Linked DNA regions of Homo sapiens: regions 1, 3 and 4 are each linked to region 2. The links come from fine-mapping of genetic effects on gene expression. A gene starts in region 2. Each other region holds a variant in brackets. All regions are shown on one strand. Distances are between the middles of the regions.

Region 1 (2,685 bases), 31 kb before region 2:
CTAAATCATGAATCCCTGTGAACAAATTTGTGAATAATAAACAAAAAATCACTTGCCTAAGACTTCAGAAAAGAAAAAAATAAGATTGAAGAGAAAGCAGCAAAAGTAATCTTCCTTCTGAATAAATTTGAACACATTCAAAAGTAAATTTTAAAACTGGGGTATTAGAACCCTTTGAATACTTCAAAAGTATGAAGCACAAAAACATTCTTTCGGTTGATGAGATTACTAGCAGTAATATTTGTTGAATTGCTTGGCACAGGCCACTCTGGTAATGGCAAATCCAGATCCCTGGCAGTGGCTGTTAATCATTAACGGTGGCATGCCTCTGTGTGGGGGGTCACAGACAGGTGCATGCACAAAATGCACAAATACAGACACACAGAGATAAGGAGCCAGGAGTTTAGGGAGGACCCAGTATCTACGGAGGCTACGGCTTACTGAATAACACAGACCACAGCCAAGTTACTCACCATTAATTCCAAGTCTGATGCCTCCTACCTTAAGCAATCTGTGGACAAGAAAGGGAGATAGGGCACGTACACTATGCTTTTTACTTCATCAAAAAAGATGCAGCTGGAAACTTCGAAGCCAAAAAAAAGCATTATATATTCTTTAATTGTAAATCCAAAGGCTTACAGGGTAACATAAATGCTGTATTTCAAGGAACAATGCACAAAAATAAAACACAAAGTAAAAATAGACACTACTACATGGTAGCTCAAAAATCAACCAAAAAATAAATTACTACAAATCGCAAAGTAGAGAAAGAGCTGACATCCACCCTTGAAGCATGCTTTTATTTTAATACAACATATAATTATGAACTCACTAGAGATGCCTATATCTTCCAGTTTTATAAATAGTTGTCAATAATTAAAATACGTTAAAATAAGGCCGGGCCTGGTGGCTCATGCCTGTAATCCCAGCATTTTGGGAGGCCAGTGTGGGAGGATCACCTGAGATCTGGAGTTTGAGACCAGCCTGGCCAACATGGTGAAACCCCGTCTCTACTAAAAATACAAAAAAAATTAGCCGGGTGTGGTGGTGGGCGCCTGTAATCCCAGCTACTCGGGAGGCTGAGGCAGGAGAATCACTTGAACTCGGGAGGTGGAGGTTGCAGTGAGCCGAGACC[A/G]CACCACTGCACTGCAACCTGGGTAACAGAGTGAGACTCTGTCTCCAGATAATAACAATAATAATAATTTTTTTTTTTGAGACAGGGTCTTGCTCTGTCGCCCAGGCTGGAGTGCAGCAGTTTAGTCATAGCTCACTGCAGCCTCAACTTACCAGGCTCAAGCAATCCTCTCACCTCGGCCCCCAACAAAGTGCTGGGACTACAGCTGCAAGCCATCACACCCAGCCAGTAACTAATTGTGAGTAACATCATTTCCAAATTTTAGATTCTATGATTTGAAGCTTTATTTCTTTCTCAAACGCTTTTCCTGCTCTTCAAAATCTTTTTCATTTTTGTAATTAAACACCTAATTTTAGAATTCCTGAAAACAATTTGGGGAAGTGTTAAAAAAAAAAAAAACAAATTAGAGTCTTTCCTGTATCATTTTAAGTCAACAAAGTGCATAAAAGTTTCCAAGAAACATGTCAATGATATCACTGGTAGTAATGCTTCACAGAACTGCAGGATGTCAAACCTATTCCAGTCAGTGGTGCTCCAGCCAGTTTTCCAAGAAAGCCTGGGCTAGGGAAACTCAGCTTCTGTGAAAGGTCACCACTTTCTTTTTTTTTCCTGAGACTAACACTTAATTTAGCACATACTAAGAGGTAGGGCTCTGGCTGCTTTGCATACAGGACTCACTTAAGCCCCGCCCAAGCCCTGAGGGACACAGGGTTACAGTGATGGCTCCAATGATGAGGAGGTACAGAGTAACAGAGTCAGAGGCCTCAAAACCATCAGGCACACCTAGAACTTAAAGTATAAAAAAAAAAAAAACCCATCAGGCACAAGAGCCCGAATGCCAACAGGGCTGTCTGACTCAGAGTTCCTGGTGGGGGGTGAGGGAGGTCTATCATATTTTTCAGAATCCCATAAAGACTTCCCATTCAGTCTTGTCCTGGAGAAGGAAACAGGCAGTCACCCAAGCAGTCTATTTCTCTGTCAGCCAGCTCCAAGTGCTAGCAAGTCGTTGACTTGGAGACCAGATTGCCATCCCTGCAGCATTCACCCAGAAGTCCTACTGCGTAACTCTGGAATAACAAGCAACTGGTTTCTTCTCTCCCTACTTGAAAGTCCTCCCCATGCATGGGCAGCCCCAGCAGTCCCCACCCCCTTGTGTGCTGTGTGTTCTTCCTGTTCTTGGACTCCCAGGCTCCCCCATCCTCTCCCATGCATGCCAGGAGGCTCCTTAGGACATGATGCTCGCAGTCAGACGCAACTCCATGGGTTTGAGCAGAACAGGGCAGGTGGGATTGGTGCCTCTCCTTGATGAACTCTAAGTACTCATTAGTGGTGTCATGGTCTTACGTTGCATTTACCTGTTGTGCATTTTTCAATGTAACCAAATACTGAAAAATCTAAGGGACAGAGTGAATTACCTGTATGTCTACTTTATTTTTTTATTTTTATTTTTATTTTTTCTTTTTTTTTTAATTATACTTTAAGTTCTAGGGTACATGTGCACAACGTGCAGGTTTCTTACATATGTATACATGCGCCCTGTTGGTGTGCTG
Region 2 (2,685 bases):
CCACTTACTGTTGCTGGACTTGAGGTCCCGGTGCAGGATGGGCACGAAGGCCTCCTCATGCAGGTAGAGCATGCCCCGCGCTATCTGCACGGCCCAGTTGACCAGCACGTGCGGAGGGATGCGGCGCGCGCGGCGGGGGCCGGGCGCGCGCGGGTCCGGGGCGGCGTTGGCAGCGGCCAGCGCTCGGTTGAGCGCTCCGCCGCGGGCGAACTCCAGCACCAGGCAGAGGTGCGGCTGCTGCAGGCACACGCCGCGCAGCTCGATGATGTTGGGGTGCCGCAGCATGGCGAAGAGCCGAGCCTCGCGCCGCACGCTCTCGGCAGCCGCCGCCGCGTCCTGCTCCGGGTCCTGGCGCGCCGCCTTCACGGCCACCTCCTGGCCCTGCCAGGTGGCGCGGTACACCTGCCCGAAGCCCCCAGCGCCGATGAGCTCCTTCAGCTCCAGCCGCTCGAAGGCGACGTGTACCGGGGAGCTGGGCCGCGAGGGCGGCGGCGCGGGGCTGGCGGCCGGGCGGCAGGGAGCCACGTAGTTGGCGGGGAAGATGCCGAGGCGCCGCTGCACCTGGCCTGCCCACCAGCCCTCGTCGCCCGACACGGCGGCGTCCTGCGACAGCACCTCCACCAGCTGGCCGCGCCGCAGGCTCAGCTCGTCCTCGCCGCGAGCCTCGTAGTCATAGAGCGCGGCCCACAGCCCCGCGCCCGCCGAGGCCGAGCCGCCCGAGGAGGTGGACGACGAGGACGCTGAGCCGCCGGGGGCTCCCCCGGCCGAGGACACCGGGGTGTCGGTCGCTCCCGCGGCGCCCCGCAAAGCCATGGGGGCAGCTGCGCGGGGAAGGCGGAGCGGGAAGCTGGGCTCAGCCTCCCGGGCGGCCGCGGGCGCGCATCGTCCGGCGGTGTGGCCGTCGGCGCCGGGGGAAGGCGAGGGGGTAGGAATCGCGATCGGTGACGGCAGAGATCACGGGCTAGCTGCCCAAAGGGTCCAGCCTCGGCCCGCGTTCCTGGCCAGCCGCCTCTGCTGCCGCAGCGGTCCCCGAAGCCGCGGGCGACGTCCCACCATGGTCGTGCCCAGGCCCTGCGGCCGGCCCGCCCGCCGCGCGCTCCTTAGCCAGAGCCTGGGACGCCCCACCCCACCCTAGCCGCGCCAGGGCCGCCCCGCCCCCTCCGGCTCCATTCCGCACCGCCCCCCCACCCCCCCGGGCCCGCCCCTAGGCCAGTCCCCAGGGCCTTCCCGCCCCTCCCCCAGCCGCCCCGCCCTCTCCAGGTTCATTCCGCCCTCCTTGACCCGTCCCGGGCGCCCAGTCTGCGCCCGCCCTATGGGACCGCCTTCCTAGGTTCGCCCCACCCTTCCCCACCAACTGCACCATCCCGCCCCGCCCTCGCCAGGTTCACTTCCCTTTTCTGTGCCAGTCCCCAGAGCCTCGTCCCGCCCCTGGCGCCCGGGCCCGTCCCCCACCACCTTGGGCCGGGCCCGCCCCCTGGGCCCGCCTGGCTGGTCCCACCCCGCCCCCGCCGCAGGTGCTCCGGAGCAATGGTGAGCCGCGCCCACATGGTCTGGGAGGCGGGATCGGCCGTCATCCGCTATAAATTTTCGGGAGAGTTTAAATTAAGCCAAAGGTAAGACTGAGGGAGGGGACGCTTCTCCAAGAAGCGGTGGGAGAGGGTTGAGAAGATGTGGGGCTTTAGGGTGTGGCGGGGAGAGAGAGAGTTGCAGTTCAGGGAGAGTGACAGAATCTCAGAACGGGCTACAGAAGAAATTGTAGCGCGGTGCCAGACCTGGGCCAGTGCGAGTGGCAAGTCACCATGCTAAGTGCGTTTGAGCCACCGTGCATCTCAGAACTGACTAGGTTACAGATCGCAGCGCAGAGTGACCCGTGGTCGGTATAGTCCCAGAAGCTCCATGATGGTAAATCCTTTGCTTATTTTTACTGTCTACTCAGATGGAAAATGCCCCAGTCTCCCTGGAAACCCACAGGTTTGGGTTTAGGAAGCATTGGCAATGGCTGGGTGCCAGACGTTGGTAGGTTACTGTGGCAGGTGATGAGGCTAAAAAGATAGAAGAGCTTAGTTATTAAAATTCTAAAATATTAGATTATCCTGTAGTAGGCCAGAATTTCCTAACGTGTGGATCCTGTACTTCCAATAACAGAAGGGACAATTTTAGATATTATGAGGATAGGACATACAGTAACATTCTGAGTTACATAAAGATAAATTTATTGTCTTTTCAGTTTTCTTTGTCTCTCAGATCAAACTATTTATTGGCTGTGTGACCTTGAGCAAGTTTCTTTATTTCTCTATGACTCAGTTTTCTCATCTATAAAATGGGAATATAATAAATAGTACCTACTTTATAGGGTTTTTAGGAAGACTAAATGAGTTAATAGTTTTACAGTGGGTCTTCTGCATCCACAGAATCAACCAACAGCTGGTCAAAAATGTTTTTTAAAAACCCAAAAAATAACAATACAAATAATACAAATAAAATACAGCATAACAACTATTTACAGAGCATTTACATTATATTAGGTATTATAAGTAATCTAACTATTTAAAGTATGGGCATACTTTGGAGATACTGCAAGCATGGTTCCAGATCACTGCAATAAAGCAAGTGACATGAATTTTTTGATTTCCCAGTGCATATATATACAAGTTATGTTTCCAGTATACTGTAGCGTATAAAGTG
Region 3 (2,685 bases), 41 kb before region 2:
GTATTTGGTAAATTCCCATATCACGTCTCAATTTAAATGTTACTTCTTTTTTTGGAGATGGAGTCTTGCTCTGTCACCCAGGCTGGAATGCAATGGTGCGATCTCAGTGCACTGCAACCTCCACCTCCCGGGTTCAAGCAATCCTCCTGCCTCACCCTCCTGAGTAGCTGAGATTACAGGCGCACACCACCACACCTGGCTAATTTTTTTTTTTTTTTTTTTTGTATTTTACTAGAGACGGGGTTTCACCGTGTTGCCCAGGCTGGTTTCGAACTCCGTTAGGAAGCCTTCTATGATCACCTTAGACCAGGTTACATCTCTGCACTAGTCACTGTCATGTGACTTTTCCCTCACAGCAGCTAATGATTATAGAAGCAAATAAGTATTGAATTATTAGCTTAAGTTCTGCCCCCTCCCTCAATATAAGGTAAGTGCTCTATGGGCAGTGACCATGACAGTCTCCATGACTTCAGACTGGCACAGTGCCTTGCACATTACAGGTACTTAGAAAACTTTGCTGAATGAGTACTTTCTCTGTGGGAAACATGAGTGCAGAGACTGCATATATGTTTTATAATCACCCCTAGTACTGGGGACACAGCAGATCCTCAGGTGTTTGTTGACGGAGAAAGTTATGCAGGGTTCATCTACAGGATCAGGCTGGTGCTTGAAGTGAGTTGCTGAGGAATACACAGCAGGCTGGAGGAGATTTGGAAGACAAACCAAACGGAAAGGAAAGACCAAATGGGAGGCTCCTCCATCTGCTGAGTCATACTTTTTTTTTTTTAAAGACAAGATTTTACTCTGTTATCCAGGCTGGAGTGCAGTGGTGCAATCTCAGTCCACTGCAGCCTTGACCTCCCCTGGCTCAAGCAATTTTCCTGTCTCAGCCTTCTGAGTAGCTGGTACTACAGGCATGCACCACTATGCCCAGCTAATTTTTGTATATTTTTGTAGAAATGGGGTTTCACCATGTTGCCCAGGCTGGTCTTGAACTCCTGGGCTCAAGCAATCCACCTGCCTTGGCCTCTGAAAGTGCTTGGGATGACAGGCGTGAGTCACTGCACCTAGCCCCAAGTCATTCCTTTTGAAAGACTTGACCAGGGCAGAGCAGTTGAGGTAAAAAATTGACTAGACTAGGTGGTGGTAGTTGGGGGAAAGAGGTGGTCAAAGAAAAAAAATTCTTAACCATAGAAAGGAAACAGTTTAGACTAAAGTCATTTATAAATGTTCAGCTAGCCACCTGATTGTTACAACACGACAGAAACAAATGCTCTGAGAACTTTTACAGCAAGAGGAGCCCTCCTGTCAATAACAGAAGAAAGCCAAGAACCAAGCCACAGGATCTGATTGACAAGTTATTTGGAACAAATGATGGGACAATAAATACTAAGCACAGATCAGGAAACCAACATGGAACACGTGGAAAGCCACGGGTGAGAGCAGCAAAGATACAAGGCTGCATTTTAACAACACCTAAGATTCAGAGTGCTTCCAACCTTCCAAAAACACCTAAATACTTCCACTTGAAAAGCATACTTTATGTTGTAAACAGAAAGAAAACATTCTTTTTTTTTTTTTTT[TG/G]AGACGGAGTCTTGCTCCTGTCACCCAGGCTGGAGTGCAGTGGCGAGATCTCAGCTCACTGCAACCTTGCCTCTTGAGTTCAAACAGTTCTCCTGCTTCAGCCTCCTGAGTAGCTGGGATTACAGGTGCCTGCCACCACGCCCATCTAATATTTGTACTTTTAATAGAGATGGGGTTTCTCCATGTTGGCCAGGCTGGTCTCGAATTCCTGACCTCAGGTGATCTGCCTGCCTTGGCCTCTCAAAGTGCTGGGATTACAGGCATGAGCCACCACGCCCAGCCAACATTCTTTATCGTAAACATCCTTGTCCCTTTGAAGTAGGGAAAGGTTGAGTCTGTGCCAGCTAAACATTTGGGAAAACTAAAGCTGAATTGTTAAAATGCCTGTGGCCTGTGCTCAGATTTTCTTTGTACTCACTAGAATAATGGTTCTCAAGATGCCTGGTCATAGCAGCTATAGTTCAATCACAGGCTTGAGTAAAACCTATCCTAGTATTTTTGCTGGCAATATGAATATTTCACTAACAAAGCTAATTGCCTCAGTGGGAGGCTTCCATTTGCAGATGAAAAGGAATGTATTCTCTAAAGAATCCAGGTGAGGTTATATGCTCTCTCCCATCCACCCTTCTACTCACTCGCATACCTGTGAGGTAGATGGTTTTTGCAGGCTTTGGACACTTCTGAAGCAATCAAAGTTAGAATGCCACTGCTTTAGTGACATACCAACTTTTGGAGGCTTTAAAGCTTTTGTCTTGTATTAACGTGTCCAAAAAACACAACTTCAGTTAAAAGTAAACATAAACAGAAGGAGCAATCAATATAGAGTACTCACAAAATAAAAAGATGCACTGTGACCATGCTTTTTTCTCTTGCAAATTCCAAGAAAAATACTACATAATCACAAAGTATTGTTTTAAAATTATTATCCTAGATTATTACTGTCTTACTTTTTAAGCATTAATCTTCCTTATTTGGTAGCCAGCCATGAAGAAATTCCAGGAGGAAAAAAAAATCACTTTTGAGGTTTCTATCACTAAATCACCATAGCTATAAATACCCATAAGATTAAAAACGATCAGCAGTAATTCTCGAGGACAAAGT
Region 4 (2,685 bases), 130 kb before region 2:
AAATTATTTGACAAAAACAGCCTCCACAATCCATAAGAGTTATCAAAGAATGAAAAAATGACTGAAAATATTTATTTTTACCAATTAATTATTTTGGCCTGTTTTTTGTTTGTTTTTACTAAATTATTCTTTCTGTCCATTGCGTGCTGAGGGGAATCAGAAGAAATAGAATTTGGGCAGAGATACAAAGAGTCAGCGGGGAAGGAGGATGATGAGAGGAGGAGAAGCAGAGGAAAAGAAAAAAGAAGTAGACAGGTGTTTACAATGTTAAAAGTGAAGCAAAACTTAGAAGACATTCCATACAAACCCACATACGTACGTAGACTAACTTATTTTGTGATAGAAGCCAAGTCTCTCATTCTGTACTTTCCTCTCGGAGTGGTGTGTGATCTGCAGATACACTTTTCTCTCCATTTTCACCCGACATTTAAGTGGAGACAACTCTCCCATCTCTGCTGTTAGAGACAGTGAGGTTGTCTAGGCACACACTGTTCTAACACAACTGAGGGTTCGAGGCAGTCAGGGCACTGCATGCAAAGTCACCAGCATGTCAGCCCACAAAATTGAACACCCAGAGAAGCTCAGGGCTGACCCCAAAAGAGCCAAAAAGACTTCCTCCCCAAAATGCCTTCTTGCCTCACCCCCCCACCTGCTTTTTTTTTTTTTTAGACAGATTCTCACTCTGTTGCCCAGGCTGGGATGCAGTAGAGTGATTATAGCTCACTGCAGCCTTGAACTGCAGAGCTCAAGGGATCCTCCTGACTCAGCCTTTCACATACCTGGGAGTACAGGTGAACCCTACCACACACAGCAAATTTTTAAAATTTTTTGTAGAGATGGTGTCTCACTATGTTGCTCAGGCTGGTCTCAAACTCCTGGCCTCCAGCAATCTTCCCATCTTCCAAGTGCTGGAATTACAGGCTTGGGCCGCTGCACCCTGCCCTGCTCCATTTATACATGGCAACTCCCACTGTTAAAAATACGCTAACAAAGAACAAGCAAAATGTGACAAGATCATATTTTCACTTCCTTGCATTTCACAAATCGACTACAACCAGCTAAGTGGGACCTCAGAAAAAAATGTGGGCATCACTGTCTGTCCCGCAGCAAGGGCCAACCTTAGCCCATTCATTTGTCCAATAAGTGTGTGTTGAGCACCTACTACCTGCCAAGCCCTGGGGCGAGAGCAATACAGACTATGACCTTTCGAACAAAAGAGACTGGGTCCATGGGGAACGCTGGTGACAGCTGACCTTATGGGAAGGTGCTGCTGAGAACCAGCCCAGGGGAGATTCCAGCGCACAGACGGGCTGTG[C/A]CCCACATGTGGGTAAGGGGAGTCTTCTCAAAGAGGGGTGTCAGGAAGCAGGGGCAAACTGCAGTTTGTTCCCCAAGACTAGAGCCAAAAGCCTGTTGTGAGGCCGTTGCAGTGACGCAGCTGGGAGACAGACCATCAGAGCCCCAGCTGCAGCAATGGGTCTGGGAAGAGATTTAAAACACATTATGGGTGGGGAGAAGTAGCAGAGCTTGTGGCAGCCCCCAGGCCAGAAACGGAAAAGACAATTCCAAATATTTAGGGTATCAAAGATTTAACCAACTCAGAATTTAGTGACAATTACTGATTTGCTGCTTGATTTGAGCCAGGCTCATCTGCACGTTTGGGGCCTCTGCTGAGACAGGCTTCTGTCTGCACATGGTTTCTCTTCCTCAAGGAGACCAGCCTGGAGATAATCTCAGTGGAGATTATTGACAGATGACAATTTTCCCTACCTTGTTCAGGAGGCAACAGCATTGCAAGAGGGGAAGAGGGAAGCTGCAATGCCTCTCGAGGCCCCAGCTTAAGACACACACGGCATTCCTGTGCTGTGTTCTGTCAGTCTCAGTGGTCACAGGGCCAGCCCAGATGGACAGGTGGACCAAGAGGTTCCATCTGTACATAGGAGGAATGGCAAAGAATTTATGATCATTTTTAATTATCAGTCAGGATTCAGTAAGGATCTGCAGGTCCTGAGCCACCCACTCTATGTCTGACTTTCCCTCAAAGATACTCGGCTTCCCCCGTGTTTCCACCACTCAGGTGCGCTGTGACCAGGTGGCCTGTATCGTCAATGCCTGCCCCAGTTCAGAACTCCCCCAGGCCTCAAAATGCCAGATTGCCAGTGAGCCAGTGACTCCAGACCCCTCCTAAGGCTGGTTGAATAGGAAAGCAAAACCTTTGCATTCTGTCTGGCCATCAATCCAAGCCCTAACCTGCTTCATTGCTTGGTAGCCTCTTGATTGACTCCCTCTGTTACCCAAAAAAAAAACCGGGGTTCATTTGCCTGGCAAGTAACAAATGCCTCCTTAAGAGAATGCAGGGTTTTTTTAAATCAATTGTTTGTTTGTTTGTTTGAAAGGAGGTCTAATTCTGTCACCCAGGTTAGAGTGCAGTGGTGCAAACTAGTTCACTGAAGCCTTGACCTCCTAGGCTCAAGTGATTCTTTCACCTTGGCCTCCAAAAGTGCTGGGATAACAGGCATGAGCCACTGCACCTGGCCCCATAGGATAATTATTACTTGGTACAAGTAAGGAGTATAAACCAAAAAGTGTCTGAGACAGGTCTCAATCAATTTGGAAGTTTATTTTGCCAAGGTTGGGGACACACCCATGACACAGCCTCGGGAGGTCCTCAGAACATGTACCCAAGGT

Which allele goes with the higher level. Positions count from the first base shown, and alleles are read on the strand shown. Sizes are in standard deviations (SD) of each study's normalised expression. Not every link is listed here.
For the expression in monocytes after interferon gamma of the gene that starts at base 1,118 in region 2, TG is the low allele of the variant in region 3 and G is the other (large effect, 1.3 SD a copy in Fairfax 2014).

What was found. PIP is the estimated chance that this variant, and not a neighbour inherited with it, causes the effect. A credible set is the group of variants that fine-mapping cannot tell apart.
Region 1: its variant is the best candidate, but not a certain one, in a credible set for the expression of MAP3K21 in lung (TOPMed, PIP 0.51).
Region 3: its variant is the best candidate, but not a certain one, in a credible set for the expression of MAP3K21 in monocytes after interferon gamma (Fairfax 2014, PIP 0.70).
Region 4: its variant is the best candidate, but not a certain one, in a credible set for the expression of MAP3K21 in whole blood (INTERVAL, PIP 0.84).

The regions. Positions count from the first base shown.
Region 1 is chr1:233,357,323-233,360,007 of GRCh38, reverse strand. All of the region lies in intron 4 of MAP3K21 (mitogen-activated protein kinase kinase kinase 21), which reads right to left. Among named protein-coding and RNA genes, the nearest start is that of MAP3K21, 31 kb to the right of the region's middle. The variant A/G (reference allele first, on the strand shown) is at 1,136.
Region 2 is chr1:233,326,157-233,328,841 of GRCh38, reverse strand. MAP3K21 (mitogen-activated protein kinase kinase kinase 21) reads right to left here and starts at 1,118. Exons shown (of 10, transcript NM_032435.3): 1 at 9-1,118. The coding sequence starts at 813. It also overlaps a transcript of PCNX2 not described here. RefSeq lists silencers at 475-674, 864-1,015, 815-1,114, 1,305-1,604.
Region 3 is chr1:233,366,759-233,369,443 of GRCh38, reverse strand. All of the region lies in intron 5 of MAP3K21 (mitogen-activated protein kinase kinase kinase 21), which reads right to left. Among named protein-coding and RNA genes, the nearest start is that of MAP3K21, 40 kb to the right of the region's middle. The variant TG/G (reference allele first, on the strand shown) is at 1,584.
Region 4 is chr1:233,453,785-233,456,469 of GRCh38, reverse strand. No RefSeq gene overlaps it. Among named protein-coding and RNA genes, the nearest start is that of MAP3K21, 130 kb to the right of the region's middle. The variant C/A (reference allele first, on the strand shown) is at 1,316.